Linked DNA regions of Homo sapiens: region 2 is linked to region 1. The links come from fine-mapping of genetic effects on gene expression. A gene starts in region 1. The other region holds a variant in brackets. All regions are shown on one strand. Distances are from middle to middle.

Region 1 (8,334 bases):
TTACATGCGCCTGCCACAATGCACAGCTAATTTTTTTTTTTTTGTATTTTTAGTAGAGATGGGATTTCACCATGTCGGCCAGGCTGGTCTTGAACTCCTGACCTCAGGTAATCCGCCTGCCTCGGCCTCCCAAAGTGCTGGGATTACAGGCGTGAGCCACCACACTCGGCTTGGCCTAACTTACTATTTTTTTTGAGACGTGGTTTCTCTAAGTTGCCAAGGATGGATTCCACCTCCTGGGCTCAACCGATCCTCCTACCTTAGCCTCCCAAGTAACTGGGACCATAGACCTGTGCCTCCATGCCTGCTTTGTAAACTTAAACCTTATAAGAACCCAAAGAGACAGACACTATCATTATCCTCATTTTACTAATTGGAAACTTTGACTGGTTGGGTTCTCTGGGAAGCTGACTCAAGAGGGAGTTTAAAGCAACGTTTATTCACTAAATTTAGACATTGATTAGACTCAATACGGACTAACTTCAGTACGTGAATCATTAGAAGACCCCTTGCAGAAAGATCAAAATCTACAGATTTCACTCAAAGAACATACTTTTATTAATTCCAGTCAAGGGCCACTGACCATGTCATGGCTTCCTTTTTAGCAGTACTGTGTATTAACACATTTAAAGAGGGTCCTCCAGAAGGGCACCACAGGCTTCAGGGTGGCTAGACATACGGAAGCTGGGCTGGTGATTCGGGGTCACCTTGGCCATGGTTCCAAGGATATGTCGGGGGAGAAAAGTCTATGAGCTGTATCTTAGGAAAACTCTTCTAGGGTAAAGAGGTAGTTGGACTTTATTTAGGTTGTTTTATTTATTTATTTTTTTGAGACAGGGTCTCACTTTGTCACCCAGGCTGAAGTGCAGTGGTGCGATTATTTTCTTTTTTCCTTTTTTTTTTTTTGAGAACAGGCTCGCTATTGTTGCCCAGGCTGGAGTGCAGTGGCGCGATCTCAGCTCACTGCAACCTCCACCTCCCAGGTTCAAGCAATTCTCTGCCTCAGCCTCCCAAGTAGCTGGGAATACATGCGCCCACCACCACGTCTGACTAATTTTTGTATTTTTAGTAGAAACGGGGTTTCACTGTCTTGGCCAAGTTGGTCTTGAGCTCCTGACCTCGTGATCCACCTGCCTCAGCCTCCCAAAGTGCTGGGGTTACAGGAAAGAGCCACTGCACCCGGTCCAGATTATTATTATTATTATTATTATTATTTTTGAGAAAGAGTCACGTCTGTTGCCAGGCTGGAGTGCAGTGGTACGATTTCGTCTCACTGCAGCCTCCGCCTTCAGGTTCAAGTGATTCTCCTGCCTCAGCCTCCCAAGTAGCTGGGATTACAGGAACACGCCACTATGCCCGGCTAATTTTTGTATTTTTAGTAGAGACAGGGTTTTACCATGTTGGTCAGGCTGGTCTCGATTTCCTGACCTTGTGATCCCCCTGCCTCAGCCTCCCAAAGTTGGGATTACAGGCGTGAGCCACTGTGCCCGGCCTAATTTTTGTATTTTTAGTAGAGATGGGGTTTTGCCATGTTGGCCAGGCAGGTCTTGAACTCCTGCCCTCAGGTGATCGGCCCTCTTCAGCTTCCCAAAGTGCTGGGATTACATGTGTGAGCCACCACGCCCGGCCCCTACTTTATATTCCTAATCACTAAAGGAAATAACTTCTGGAGCTGACCTTTTTATCAGCTGACCTCAAACTTAAGTATAAAAACTTATTTCCTATACACACCAGTTCCCAAAACCTTCTTCTCTCCTCTTGTATTTCATTTTTTTGATGAAGGGCTCACCTGCCACTAGCTTCCTAAGCTAGAATCTGAACATCAATAGGTATCTGGGAGCACTCCTTCCCTTACCCCTATCCCAAATCCTGGGGATTCTACGTTCCAAATTATCCAGAGTCCATCCACTTCTTTCCATTCCCACAGCTTCGTCCTTAGGTCAGGACACCATCATCTCTTGCCAAGAAGACAACAACAATCCAAGCGATCTCCCTGCCCTTAGTCCATTCGCCATACTGCGGTCAGAGTAATCTTTGAAAAACACAAATCAGGCCTGGGTGCAGTGGCTCATGCCTATAATCCCAGCACTTTGGGAGGCTGAGGCGGGCGGATCACCGGAGGCCAGGAGTTTGAGACCAGCCTGGCCAACATGCTGAAACCCCATCTCTACTGAAAATACAAAAATTAGCAGGGCGTGGTGAAGGGCGTCTGTAATGCCATCTATTCCGGAGGTTGAGGCTGGAGAATCGCTTGAACCCAGGCGGCAGAAGTTGCAGTGAGCCAAGATCGCGCCATTGCACTCCAGCCTGGGCGACAAGAACGAAACTCCGTCTCAAAAAAAAAAAAAAAAAAAAAATTAGCCGGGCGTGGTGGCAGGAGCCTGTAATCCCAGCTACTCAGGAGGCTGAGGCAGGAGAATCGCTTGAACCTGGGAAGCGGAGTTGCAGTGAGCTGCCACTGCACTCCAGGCCGGGCAACAAGAGCGACTCCGTCTCCAAAACAAACGAACAAACAAACAAACAAACAAAAAAACACCACCACAAATCAGGCTGGGCACGGTAGCTCACGCCTGTAATCCCAGCACTTTGGGAGGCCAAGGCAGGAGGATCCCTTGGGCCCAGGGGTTCGAGACCAGCCTGGGCAATATAGGGAGGCCCCGTCTCTACTAAAACACAAAACCACACACAAATCAAATCATGTGGTTCTTCAGTTTAAAATCTTTCAATACTCAAGTTCAAACTCCCTAATTCAGCTTACTTATTAGGATCTGAGTGAGGCAGTCGCCGTGTCCTTCTCCAGCCTGGTCTGTCGCCTATCCCCACCCACAATCTCTGCTCTGGCCATAACTAACTTCAGTTCTCCGAACCTAACTTTATTATCGCCGGGCCATTTTGCCTACGCTGTTCTCTGCATGCAACACTCTACTCTCCTTTTGGGTAATTCAGATGCATTCTCCAGGTCCCAGCTCAGCTGTCATTCGCACAGCCCGGGTCGGCAGTCTCCAGCCCCCAACCGGTGTCCACCGCGTGGTCCAGGCGACTTATGTCTTCCAGGCCGTCGGCCCCTTAAGTACACGCCATCAGTGTTGGACAGCTTGAAAGTAGGTAGACACGTGAGCCCCCTCAGAGAGAACCTGGATCCTTGCGGCTCCAGCCCCCGATAGGAAGAGAGCCCACCAAACTTCGGCTCCGCAGCAGAGATACAGCCAAGGACTCCAGGGCAGTCGCGGGTAAAGCCACCACCACTCTCTGCCGGGAACCAGCGACGGGGGAAGGCCCCGCCTCTCACGCTGCGTCGGGGGCGGGGCAGGGCGGGGCACCCGGCGACCTGCGAACGGCGTGCGGCGAGCAGGGGGCGGGGCCAGGGGGGCGGAGCGGAGCGCGCATGCGCGGTCGCCTTTGTGTGGGTCGAGCAGCGGCGGCGGCGGCGGCAGTGGCGGTCCCACTGGCAGGCGGGCAAGAGGGGAGTCCGGGCGGCGGCCGGCGTGGGAGCCGGGGGACCACCATGGTAAAGAAGCGGAAAGGCCGCGTCGTGATCGACTCGGACACAGAGGACAGCGGCAGCGACGAGAACCTGGATCAGGTGAGGGCAGGCCGCGGAGGCGCGGGCCGGCGGAGCCAGAGGGCTGTCGGGGCCGCGGGAGCCGGAGACGGCCGGGCCTGGAGCCTTCCTACCAGAGCGCCCAGCTCGCCCCGTGCCCTGGGCACCACTACAGCCCCTTTCCCGTCTTCCTGGAGTGTGCGGGGCCTTGGAGACCGGCCCGGGCCTGGAGACGGAGCCCCGAGGACTTGGCGCCTTGGGCGGGGAGGCGGGGCAGGGACCGGGCCGTTGGGCCTCGGGCTCGGGGGTAGCGAAAGGGGCCGCGATCTTCCGGGGCCAGATCGGGGCGGCGGGCTGTAGTCCAGGAGATCCGGGCTGGGAGAGATAGGAAGTATCGCCCGCCAACCTGGGAGGCTGGGAGGTTTTGGAGGAGGTGCAAGGGTGCGCGTCGAGCAGTTGGGGGCGAGGGCCAAGAAGATCCGGACTCTGGAAGATGGAAGTTTTTCGGACAAGGGATGTGGACAGAGGAAGGACACTCGTAAATGTTCCTAGGAGCCTCTGCCATGCTTGCCAAGGATGACTTAGCTGTGGGCACGAGTTTATTTGGCGACTAGGGTCGTTTGTGTTTGAGAAGGGCCCTTGTTGAGGTGTCAGACCCAAAAAAACACTCTTGGGTGGAGGAAAGAGGGCAGATACTGGAAGAAATAGAGAACTATGTAGGGCGACATGGAGGGACTGTGCATAGCCCAGGCCTCCTCTTGGCCCTTTCACGCAGCATCCCAGAATTCTTTCTTACTTGAAGACTGCAGGAAGCACTGAAAGTAACTTTTGGCCTCAGTGTCTTGGGGTTGAACTGTTTATATACTCTAGAAAACATTGTAGGGAGGAATCTGCTCTTTGTAGCAGTGCTCTAGTGATACCAGGCGATACAAAGATGGTCTCCTTTCTGTTTAATGAGCAAATGATGTAAAGAAAGAATATGCAAGAGATAGTAGCTTTTGAGTAGAAAGAGTATTGAACTTGGAGTCTGAAAATTTGAATTCTAGGCTGGGCTTATGCTATTTTCTAGCTATATATCTTTGGTCTTAAATGTAAAATGAAAATGTAACATCAGCCTTGTGTATCTAATTGGTTTATTGTAAAGATCAAGTGTTTGTAAAAATTGATGGCAGTGCAAGCATTTGCTAATTGTAAAGTTTTTCTATGAATGGCTTCTTGGGGGTCTTTTATATGAAGCCAGAGGTCTCAGTTTGAAAGTATTAGGGGCTGGGCGCGGTGGCTCACGCCTGTAGTCCCAGCACTTTGGGAGGCCAAGGCTCATCTGAGGTCGGGAGTTCGAGACCAGCCTGACCAACATGGAGAAACCCCATCTCTACTAAAAATACAAAATTAGCGGGGCGTGGTGGCACATGCCTGTAATCCCAGCTACTCGGGAGGCTGAGGCAGGAGAATTCTTGAACCCGGGAGGCGGAGGTTGCAGTGAGCCTGGGCAACAAGAGCGAAACTCCATCACAAAAAAAAAAAAAAAAAGAAAAGAAAGAAAAAGAAAGTATTAAGGCATAAAAGGGGAGGACTTTTTATTTATTTATTTATTTTTTTTTGAGACGGAGTCTCGCACTGTCGCCCAGGCTGGAGTGCAGTGGTGCGATCTTGGCTTCACTGCAAGCTCCGCCAAGGGGAGGACTTTTAAGAAGAAAAGGATTGAGGAGGTGCTGTAGAAAGAAGACTGCTTTGAAAATGGTGGTAGGGAGATGGAGAAGTAATGGGGCCTGTGTAAGACTATCTAAGGAATAGAAACTTTGTTTTGGGGTAGGAATTGAAAATGTTCTCATTGAAAGGCTCCTGAAGTTTACAAAAATATCAAAAGTATAATTTCGACTGTAAAAGTTTGATTGGTAGATAATTTTAGACTGGCAATTAGAAGGAGTAGAATCTATTTTTTTCTGTCTTTTCATCTACAAATGTGAATGTTTCAGACAATAACAACATTGGCTACCATTTATATAGTGCCTAGAGTAGGCACTTTAATTGTTTTGTTTAGATTTTCAAGTTTTCACATTATGGTAAATTTGGAATTATTTCCTCTACTTTACATAAAGAAAATGGAGGTTGAAAAAGTTAAATAACTCACAACTAGTAAGTGGTAGCATTGGGATTTGAACCCAGATCTGCATGAGTACAAAGCCTATACTGTTTCCACTATACCAACTCAATCTGTTAGTTTTAAATTTTTTTCATACTGCAAAATGATAATGTTTCACAGTCATTTTTCATGGTGCTAGAGTTCGTGTTTATAAAGTACACTGGATAGTTTAGAGGAAATTGGTACATACATTAAAAGGATTATTTGGGGGGATTTCTTGGTAAAGCACTCTCAAGACATCTGTTCAAGTGATGAATGAACTGAACTGCAAATTATTGTCCTTAGTAGTTTCCCACAGAATTCTGATGAATAAAATAAGTTGAGTGCTTCTTTTCGTGGTAGAGATATTTCACCTGATCCACAAAAAGCTTTTTCAAAGTGGGAACTGCAGAGAATTGCCACTTTATTTATTTATTTATTTTTGAGACGGAGTCTTGTTCTGTTGCCTGGGCTGGAGTTCAGTGGCACAATCTCAACTCACTGCAACCTCCGCCCACTGGGTTCAAGCGATTCTCCTGCTTCAGCCTCCCGTGTAGCTGGGACTACAGGTGCCTGTCACCACACCTGGCTAATTTTTTGTATTTTTAGTGGAGACAGGGTTTCTCCATGTTGGCCAGGCTGGTTTCGAACTCCTGACCTCAAGTGATATGCCCACCTCGGCCTCCCAAAGTGCTGGGATTACAGGCATGAGCCACCGTGCTTGGCCGGAATTGCAATTTTAAATCCAATTCTAAATATCTATTTGTAAAAGGAAATTAACATAAAATGTGTAATACCTAATACATTTTAACAACAAATTTAACTTCCTCCCCTTCAGCTTCTTATTTGCATTCTTGTTATCAGATGGGAACTAGATCAAAATTCCCTTTCCCTGCACATCCTAACAGGGGTATTGATGCCTTCAGTTTGTCTGTTCAGCACTATGCCAGACTCTCAGAATAATCAAAGAGGAAGATCTCTGCCCTCTAGACATTTTCACGAAAGACCTTTAGCACAAGTTCACTGTCAGTGCTGCTTGGGGGTCTTTAGGAATCCTAATGCATTCTGGATCTTTCCTGCCCCAAATACCTTGTGCTGCTCCATCTGGTTCTGAGTCTTCACTGGGGGTATAACATTAGACTTGCTGTCTAGCGTATGGTACTTGTGGAAGGAACAAACCATGACAGATCACTGAGTATCTAGTGTGGATTGGAATGCAGTTCGTAAGGAGGCCTTTTGTCCCTGGGTTTTTCAGATGGGAATCTGAGCCATTATGTCAAAAATTTTACCTCCAATTTATTCCTTACTGAAGGTGAGATATATGGGCCTTCTAGGCTGGTTTTTCCTGGTGGTAGGGGCAGACCTCTGTGTCAGAAGCCACCTGGGTTGCTTATTTAAAATGTAGGTTGGGACTTAGAGGGTGCAGCAGTTCCCATCCTAGACCTACTGAATCAGACTCTCAGGGGATAGAGGTCTGGACTCTGCATTTGTAACAGGTATAGCTCAAGTAATTATGATTTATGTTAGTGATTAAGATCACTGCCTATATGCAGGTTAATCTTTTTAGTAACACACTATAAGTATTTAGAAGAGAAATAGCTTCCTGTGTCTGCCATAGTACTTCCAAATTAAGCGTACATGTATAGGCTGGGCATGGTGGCTCATGCCCTGTAATCTCAGCACTTTGGGAGGCCAAAGTGGGAGGAACACTTGAGCCCAGGTGTTTGAGATCAGCGTAGGCAACAAAGTGAGACCTCATCTGTACAAAGACTTTAAAAATTGGCCAGGTGCAGTGGCTCATACCTGTAATCCCAGCACTTTGGGAGGCCGAGGTGGGCGGATCACCTGAGGTTGGGAGTTTGAGACCAGCCTGACCAACATGGAGAAACCTCGTCTCTACTAAAAATACAAAATTAGCCAGGCATGGTGGTGCTTGCCTGTAATCCCAGTTACTCAGAAGGCTGAGGCAGGAGAATCACTTGAACCCAGGAGGTGGAGGCTGTGGTGAGCCGAGATCGTGCCATTGCACTCCAGCCTGGGAAACAAGAGTGAAACTCTGTATTAAAAAAAAAAAAAAAAGAATTTAAAAATTAGCTGGGCATGGTGGCGTGCCTCTAGTCTCAGCTACTTGGGAGTCTGGGGTGGGAGGATTGCTTGAGCCTGGGAGGTTGAAGTTGCAGTTACTTGTGGTCCCACCGTTTCTCTTCAGCCCAGGTAACAGAGTGAGACCCTGTCCCAAAGAAAAAAAAAAAAAAGGCACTTGTATAACTAAAAGAACTTGACAGGGAGGTTTTAAGATGGCAAAACTACTGGTTCTTTTTTTTTTTTTTTTTAGGCAGGGTTTCACTCCTGTCACCCAGGCTGGAGTGCAGTGGCACAATTACAGCTCACGGCTGTAGCGTTGACCTCCCTAGCTCAGTGATCCTTCCCCCTCAGCCTCTCAAGTAGCTGGGACTACAGGTGTGCACCACCACACCCAGCTAATTTTTAAAATCATTTGTAGAGATGGGGGTCCCACTACATTGCCTAGGCTAGTCTGAAACTCCTGGGCTTGGGTGATTCTCAGGCTTTGGCCTCCCAAAGTGCTGGAATTACAGGTGTGAGCTGCCACACCAGGCCTTATTTATTTATTTGTTTGTTTGTTTATTTATTTATTTTTGAGATGGAGTCT
Region 2 (8,334 bases), 170 kb after region 1:
CCGGCTAATTTTTGTATTTTTGTAGAGGCAGGGTTTTACCATGTTGGCCAGGCTGGTCTTGAACCCCTGACGTCAGGTGATCCTCCGGCCTCAGCCTCCCAAAGTGCTGGGATTATAGGCATGAGCCACTGCGCCGGCCAGACCTTGTTGATAAAACAAGTTGCAGTAAAAAAACCGGCTAAAACCCACCAAAACCAAGATGGCGATGAGAGTGACCTCTGGTCGTCCTCACTGCTACACTCCCACCAGCACCATGACAGCTTACAAATGCTATGGCAACATCAGAAGTTACCCTATATGGTCTAAAAAGGAGAGGCATGAATAATCCACCCCGTGTTTAGCATATCATCAAGAACTAACCATAAAAATGGGCAACCAGAAGCCCTTGGGGCTGTTTTGTCTATGGAGTAGCCATTCTTTTATTCCTTTACTTTCCTTATAAACTTGTTTTCACTTTATGATCTCGCTCTGAATTCTCTTTTGCAAGATCCAGGAACCCTCTCTTGGGATCTGGACTGGGACTCCTTTCCAGTAATGTAACCGCCCAAGGTGTTCACCTTGCCTCCTGCCTAGACAGAACCAACTTATCACAACCTTTTTGATAAATTGATAAATTTTGATCGCTCAGCTTATATTCAGTTCTTGTTAATCCCCTAAGCAGGAACTAATTTACTGGGGAGGGATTTAATGTTAAAGTTGGGCATAGGTCTACAAGTCAGCCCAAGAGGATTCCTCACCTCATTAAATCTACTCACCACTGCCGATGAAAAATATATTAATCCTAATGTCTGGTCCAAAAAAGGAAACCGAGGGAAATTCCAAGTCCCTCCGATCCACATCAAGCTAAAAACCCCAGGAGAAGTAGTAAGAAGGAAGCAATCCCTATTCCCCTAGAAGGTAGGATAGGGTTGAAACCTATAATCAAAGACCTTATTAAGGATGGGCTTCTCGAGCCCTGTATGTCCCCTTATAACACCCCAATACTGCCAGTCAAGAAATCAGATGGGTCATACCAGCTACTACAGGACCTTAGAGCTATCAACCAAATAGTCCAGACTACCAACCCCATTGTCCCCAATGCTTACACGGTTCTTAGCAAAATTCCATGTAATCATCAATGGTTTACCATAATAGATTTGAAGGATGCTTTTTGGGCATGTCCCCTGGCTGAAGATAGCCGAAATATATTTGCTTTTGAATGGGAGGATCGCCACTCAGGGCGGAAACAGCAATATCGAGATGGACGGTCTTGCTCCGACGGTTCATAGACTCTCCTAATCTTTTTGGCCAAATTTTAGAACAGGTACTAGAAAAAGTTGTCATACTAGAACAAATATGCCTTCTTCAGTACGTAGACGACATTCTTATATCTGGTGAAGATATAGAGAAGGTAACTGACTTCTCTACACATATTCTTAGCTATCTGCAGTTTGAGGGGCTATGAGTCTCAAAAAGAAAGCTTCAGTATGTAGAGCCCGAAGTTAAATATTTAGGCCACTTAATAAGTGCAGACAAGCGAAGAATAGGGCCTGAATGAATCGAGGGAATGGTGTCCCTACCCTTGCCTCAAACTAAATAAGAACTCAGGAAATTTTTAGGGTTAGTCAGATACTGCCGCTTATGGATTGACTCATGCACTGCACAGTAAACTGTTATATTAAAAACTTGCCCAGGAGAAGCCGAACCATCTCCTGTGGACTTCTGAGGAAGCTGATCAAGTCTAGAAGCTGAAGGAAAGGCTCATAACTGCCTTACCCTCCCTAGAAAAGCCATTCCACCTTTTTGTTAATGTGGACAGTGCGGTAGTTTTAGGAGTGCTGACTCAAGAACACAGAGGCCGCCGGCAGCCCGTAGCCTTCCTATCAAAGGTGTTGGACCCAGTCACTTGTGGATGGCCTCAATGCATCCAGTCCATCGGGGCTGCGGCAATACTGGTCGAGGAAAGCAGGAAGTTAACCTTTGGAGGAAAATTGACGGTAAGCACGCCTCACCAAGTTAGAACTATCTTAAACCAGAGAGCAGGGAGATGGCTTACCGACTCGAGAATCTTGAAGTATGAGGCCGTTCTGTTAGAAAAGGATGATTTAACATTGACCTCTGATAATTCACTCAACCCAGCAGGTTTCCTAACAGGGAATCCAAATCTATGGAGGGAACACACATGTTTAGATTTAATTGATTACCATACAAAGGTTCGACCAGACCTAGGAGAAACCCCCTTCCGGACTGGACGGCACTTATTCATAGACAGTTCCTCCGGGGTGATTGAGGGAAAAAGACACAATGGGTATTCAGTGATTGATGGAGAAATTCTCATAGAAATAGAATCTGGAAAATTGCCAACAATTGGTCTGCTCAAACATGTGAGCTATTTGCACTCAGCCAAGCCTTAAAGTACTTACAGAACCAGGAAGGAACCATCTATACAGATTCCAAGTATGCCTGTGTAGTGGCCCATATGTTTGGGAAAATTTGGACTGAAAGAGGTCTCATTAGTAGTAAAGGTCAAGACCTTGTTCACAAGGAGCTGATCACCCAAGTATTGAATAATCTTCAGTTGCCAGAAGAAATAGCTATTGTCCGTGTTCCCGGACACCAGAAAAACCTTTCTTTTGAAAGTTGAGGAAATAACCTAGCAGATCAGGTAGCCAAGCAGGCTGCTGTGTCTTCTGAAATGCATATTTTTCACTTAACTCCCTACCTGCCTCCTCCTACTGTAATCCCCATTTTTTCTTCCACTGAAAGAGAGAAACTAATAAAAATAGGTGCTAAAGAGAATTCAGAAGGAAAGTGGATACTGCCAGACCAGAGAGAAATGTTGTCTAAACCCCTTATAAGGGAAGTCTTATCCCAACTACATCAAGGGACCCATTGGGGGCCTCAGGCCATGTGTGATGCAGTTCTCAGGGTTTATGGTTGTATAGGAATTTATACCCTGGCCAAACAGGTTACAGATAGTTGCTTAGTATGTAAGAAAACTAATAGACATACTATAAAAAGATTACCTCTCAAGAGAAGGAATCCGGGCTTAAGGCCATTCCAAAGTATCCAAGTTGATTACACAGAAATGCCTCCAATAGGTCGTCTGAAATATTTACTAGTAGTAGTAGACCACCTCACTCACTGGGTTGAAGCTATCCCTTTTCAAATGCGACAGCCAATAATGTAGTTAAGGCCCTAATTGAAAATATAGTACCTAGGTTTGGACTAATAGAAAATATTGACTCAGACAATGGAACTCATTTCACCGCACACATTATTAAAAAGCTATCCCAAACATTAGACATTAGATGGGAACACAATATTCCCTGGCACCCACCCTCATCAGGGAGAGTAGAAAGAATGAATCAGATGCAAAAGAACCACCTAACCAAATCAGTCTTAGAGACTTGGTTGCCGTGGACCAAGTGTCTTCCTATACCCTGCTGAGAATTCGAACTGCACCACGGAAAGACATTGGTCTTTCTCCTTATGAGATGCTCTATGGATTACCTTATTTGCACTCCACTACTGATATTCCTACCTTTGAAACAAAAGACCCAATCAATTCCTTACAAATTATATACTTGATGTATCTTCTACTTTCTCTTCTCTTAAAACTAAAGGTTTTTTAGCACAGGCGCCACCCTTGGAGTTCCCGGTGCATCAACATCAGCCTGGGGATCATGTCCTCATTAAGAGCTGGAAAGAGGAAAAACTTGAGCCAGCCTGGGAAGGTCCTTACTTAGTGCTCCTCGCGACTGAAACCGCAGTCCACACCGCAGAGAGAGGATGGACTCCAGAGTCATGGGCCATAGTCCTAGGGGAAAACCCTACCAAACTAAAGCTAAGAAGAATTTAACTCTCTTTCATCTATTCTATTACTTTTTCTTCTTTCCTCGCTCTATTGCTGACCATCTAGTTATTAACGTAACCAAGTCAAGTTCACCTCAAACTATTGCATTTGATGCTTGCCGTGTTATACTCTGTAGGGATTTGCTAAGTCAAAGACAGCTCTCTACTTCAGAAAAGTACCTCTGTCCCTCCTGGCTCTCCTCAGACTGGGCATTAGTGAATTGGGACCATTTAATCCGGGGAGATTTCAATAAAGACCCCAGTGGCAACCAGGAGTCTTGCCCCACTGATGTAGAGCTTTTATGCCGTAGTTGGTCCGATGTTCTGTGAACCACCAAAGAGCAAGGATGGAGTGCCCCAACCAGTTTTTATAATTTCCTAAAACCATACATTCATTTTACTAAAGGGACAGCCCCCCCTAACTGTCAGCTAAACCAGTGCAACCCTATACAGGTTATTATTTTGAGCCCCCAAAGTTCTCCCCTTTTTCTAAGCCAGTTCCCTTCTTTCAGCCGGTTTTATGGTATGGGAGCTGAGGTTTCAGGGACAGACCTATTGGATTCTTTGAAATGTGTTTCTTTGATCCCCCACCACCTGAACCTGCTTCTAAAGCTTTTTCTAAAACCTCTTACAATGGAACCATTGTTCCTCCTCCATCTAA[C/T]GACAAGGCCAAGATAGCGATGGTAGAAGTTAAAGACTTAAAACAAACTTTAGCAATCGAGACAGGATACCAAGATGTAAATGCCTGGTTGGAATGGATCAAATATTCCATCTGCACGTTAAACAAAAGCAATTGTTATGCTTGTGCGTGTGGCAGGCCAGAGGTGCAGATTGTCCCCTTTCCACTAGGGTGGTACTCCAGCAGACTGGGCATGGGCTGCATGGTAGCTCTTTTCCAGGATTTTACAGCCTGGGGTAACAAGTCATGCCAAGCTCTCTCTCTGCTGTATCCTGAAGTTCCACACCCTGTGGGTCAGCCCCTGAGGGCCATCCAGCTTCGGTCTCCCAACACTAAGTTCACTTCGTGTCTCTCACGACAGGGAGGAAACTTAGCGTTCCTTGGAGACCTGAAGGGATGCAGTGAGCTTAAGAACTTTCAAGAGCTTACCAATCAGTCAGCCCTTGTTCATCCCCGAGTGGATGTGTGGTGGTATTGTGGTGGACCTTTACTGGACACTCTACTGAATAACTAGAGTGGCACTTGTGCTTTAGTCCAATTGGCTATCCCTTTTACCCTGGCATTTCATCAATAAGAGGAAGAAAAAATAAGACATTGTAAAGTGAGAGAAGCCCCTTATGCTTTCGACTCTCACATCTATTTAGACACAGTTGGAGTCCCATGGGGAATACCAGATCAATTTAAGGCCCAAAATCAAATAGCTGCAGGATTTGAGTCAATATTTTGGTGAGTGACAGTTAACAAAAATGTAGATTGGATAAACTACGTCTATTACAACCAACAGGGATTTATTAACTACACTAGAGATGCTGTTAAAGGAATAGCTGAGCAATTAGGGGCTACTAGCCAGATGGCTTAGGAAAATAGGATAGCCTTAGACATGATATTAGCAAAAAGAGGAGGAGTTTGCGTCATGATTAAAACTCGATGTTGCACCTTCATCCCAAACAACACCGCCCCTGATGGAAGTATAACAAAGGCATTGCAAGGTCTGACTGCTCTATCCAATGAGTTAGCCAGCAACTCAGGGGCAAATGACCCCTTTACGGGATGGCTAGAGAAGTGGTTTGGTAAATGGAAAGGAATAATAGCCTCAATTCTTTCCTCCCTCGTAGCTGTAATAGGTGTACTTATTCTTGTCGGGTGCTGTGTTATACCATGCATCCTGGGTTGGTGCAGGGGCTCATAGAAATGGCACTTACTAAAACCTCCCTTAACTATCCTCCACCTTATCCAGAGAAGCTGCTTCTTTTGGAAAATCAAGCAGAACAACTAAGTCAAGACATGTTAAATAAGTTTGAAGAGAAAGCCATAAAAAATTGCAAGAGGAGGAAGTTGTTGAATATGAATTCTAAATTTCTCTTCAAAGAATTAATATGTCAGTATGTTCAATTCTTTGCCTTCTACTTTTAAACTTAACTTCCTCGTAAAGCAACCTTTTGTGATTACCTACTCTACCCTGACTCATCCCGATTACCTACTCCACCCTGACTCATTCTGATCACCTACTCCACTCTAACTCATTCTGATCACCTCCACCCTGAATCATTCTGATCACCTGCTCCACCCTAACTCATTCCGGTTACCTGCTACAAAGCGCTCACCCCATCATTCTCTTTAAATTAGCCAATCGGAATTAGTTTAGCCTGTGCGGTCTAACACTAGCCAATAGGGGAATGACCCAGCAGCAGGGGCCATGTGCGTGTAATCCCAGCGCTTTGGGAGGCAGAGGCAGGCGGATCAGGAGGTCAGGAGATTGAGACTATTCTGGCTAACATGGTGAAACCCTGTCTCTATTAAAAATACAAAAAATTAGCCGGGCATGGTGGTGGGCGCCTGTAGTCCCAGCTACTCGGGAGGCTGAGGCAGGAGAATGGCGTGAACCCGGGAGGCGGAGCTTGCAGCAGTGAGCCCAGATTGGCCATTGCACTCCAGCAGCCTGGGCGACAGACAGAAACTCTGTCTCAAAAAAAAAAAAAAAAAAAAAAAAAAAAGAACCCCTTCTTCTCCCTTGTCCAAATGTGCGCCCACCATTGCTCCATCGGTGAGAGCGCACCCTTCTATAGAAGTACCTTGCCTTGCTGAGAATTAAAAAACAGAAAATTTTATATTCGAGTGCTACAACACAGAGGAATTGCAATGGATAAGGAGTAATTCACGCAGAGCTGGCTGTGAGGGAGACCGGAGTTTTATTATTACTCAAATCAGTCTCCCCAGCATTGGGGGAGCAGAGTTTTTAAGGATAACTTGGTCGGTGGGGGGAAGCCAGTGATCCAGGAGTGCTGATTGGTCAGAGGTGAAATGATATGGAATTGGATCTGTCTTCTTGAGCTCAGTCAGTTCCTGGGTGGGGGCCACAAGATCAGATGAGCCAGTTTTTGATCTGAGTGGGACCAGCTGATCCATGAAGTGCAGGGTCTGCAAAATATCTCAAGCAGTGACCTTAGGAGCAGTTTAGGGAGGGTCAGAATCCTGTAGCCTCCAGCTGCATGACTCCTAAACCATAATTTCTAATCTTGTGACTAATGTTAGTCCTACAAAGGCAGTCTAGTCCCCAGGCAAGAAGGAGGTCTGCTTTGGGAAAGGGCTGTTACCGTCTTTGTTTAAACCATAAACTACAAACTAAACTTCTCCCAAAGTTAGTTCAGCCTATGCCCAGGAATGGACAAGGACAGCTTGGAGGTTAAAAGCAAAATGAAGTCAGTTAAGTTAGATCTCTTTCACTGTCTCAGTCATAATTTTGCAAAGGTGGTTTCAGTAACATAATTGTTCCTAAGACTCTGTTCAAGCATATACAACATACCAGATGCTTTCCTTATACCTTTGAACATTTTATTATTATTATTATTGAGATGGAGTCTAGCTCTGTTGCCAGGCTGGAGTGCAGTGGCGCGATCTTGGCTCACTGAAACCTCCGCCTACCGGGTTCAAGCGATCCTCCTGCCTCAGCCTCCTGAGTAGTTGGGACTATAGGCACGCGCCACCACGCCCAGCTAATTTTTTGTATTTTTAATAGAGACGGGGTTTCTCCATGTTGGCCAGGATGGTCTTGATCACTTGACCTTGTGATCTGCCCACCTCAGTCTCCCAAAGAGCTGGGATTACAGGTGTAAGCCACCGTGCCCAGCCCATTTTATTATTTTTAATCCCGAAGCTATATGTTTTGTTTAACTTATTTAATAAACATACTCATCTTTTTTTGTTTGTTTGTTTGAGATGGGGTCTCATTCTGTCACCCAGGTTGGAGTGTAGTGGGATGATCACATCTCACTGCAACCTCTGCCTCCGGGCTCAAGCGATCCTCCCACCTCAGCTTCCCAAGTAGCTGGGACCACAGGCATGTGCCACCATGTCCAGCTAAGTTTTTGTATTTTTTGTAGAGGCAGGGTTTTGCCACGTTGCCCAGGCTGGTCTTGAACTCCTGGTCTCAGGCCATCCACCAGCCCCGGCCTCCCAAAGTGCTGGGATTACAGGTGTGATCCTCCATGCCCAGCCTATTTTGTTTTTCTGATTGCTTTCTAAATATTAACGTATGTAATCCTCATAACAATGGCTTTGTTACCAGAAAGGAGTCCAAATCTAGACCCCAAGAGAGGGTTCTTGGAGCTTGCCCAGGAAAGAATTCAGGGTGAGTCCTTAGTAAAGTGAAAGCAAGTTTATTAAGAAAGTAAAGGAATAGGCCTGGTGAGGTGGCTCATGCCTGTAATCCCAGAACTTTAGGAGGCCGAGGTGAGCGTATCACTTGAGGTCAGGCATTTGAGACCAGCCTGGTCAACATAGCGAAACTCTGACTCTACTAAAAATACAAAAATTAGCTGGGG

What was found. PIP is the estimated chance that this variant, and not a neighbour inherited with it, causes the effect.
Region 2: its variant is the best candidate, but not a certain one, in a credible set for the expression of RTF1 in whole blood (TOPMed, PIP 0.78).

What each region holds. Positions count from the first base shown.
Region 1 is chr15:41,413,731-41,422,064 of GRCh38, forward strand. It overlaps RTF1 (RTF1 homolog, Paf1/RNA polymerase II complex component), which reads left to right and starts at 3,365. Exons shown (of 18, transcript NM_015138.5): 1 at 3,365-3,583. The coding sequence starts at 3,386. RefSeq lists an enhancer at 3,095-3,194 and a silencer at 3,255-3,844.
Region 2 is chr15:41,586,885-41,595,218 of GRCh38, forward strand. No RefSeq gene overlaps it. Among named protein-coding and RNA genes, the nearest start is that of TYRO3, 32 kb to the left of the region's middle. The variant C/T (reference allele first, on the strand shown) is at 4,496.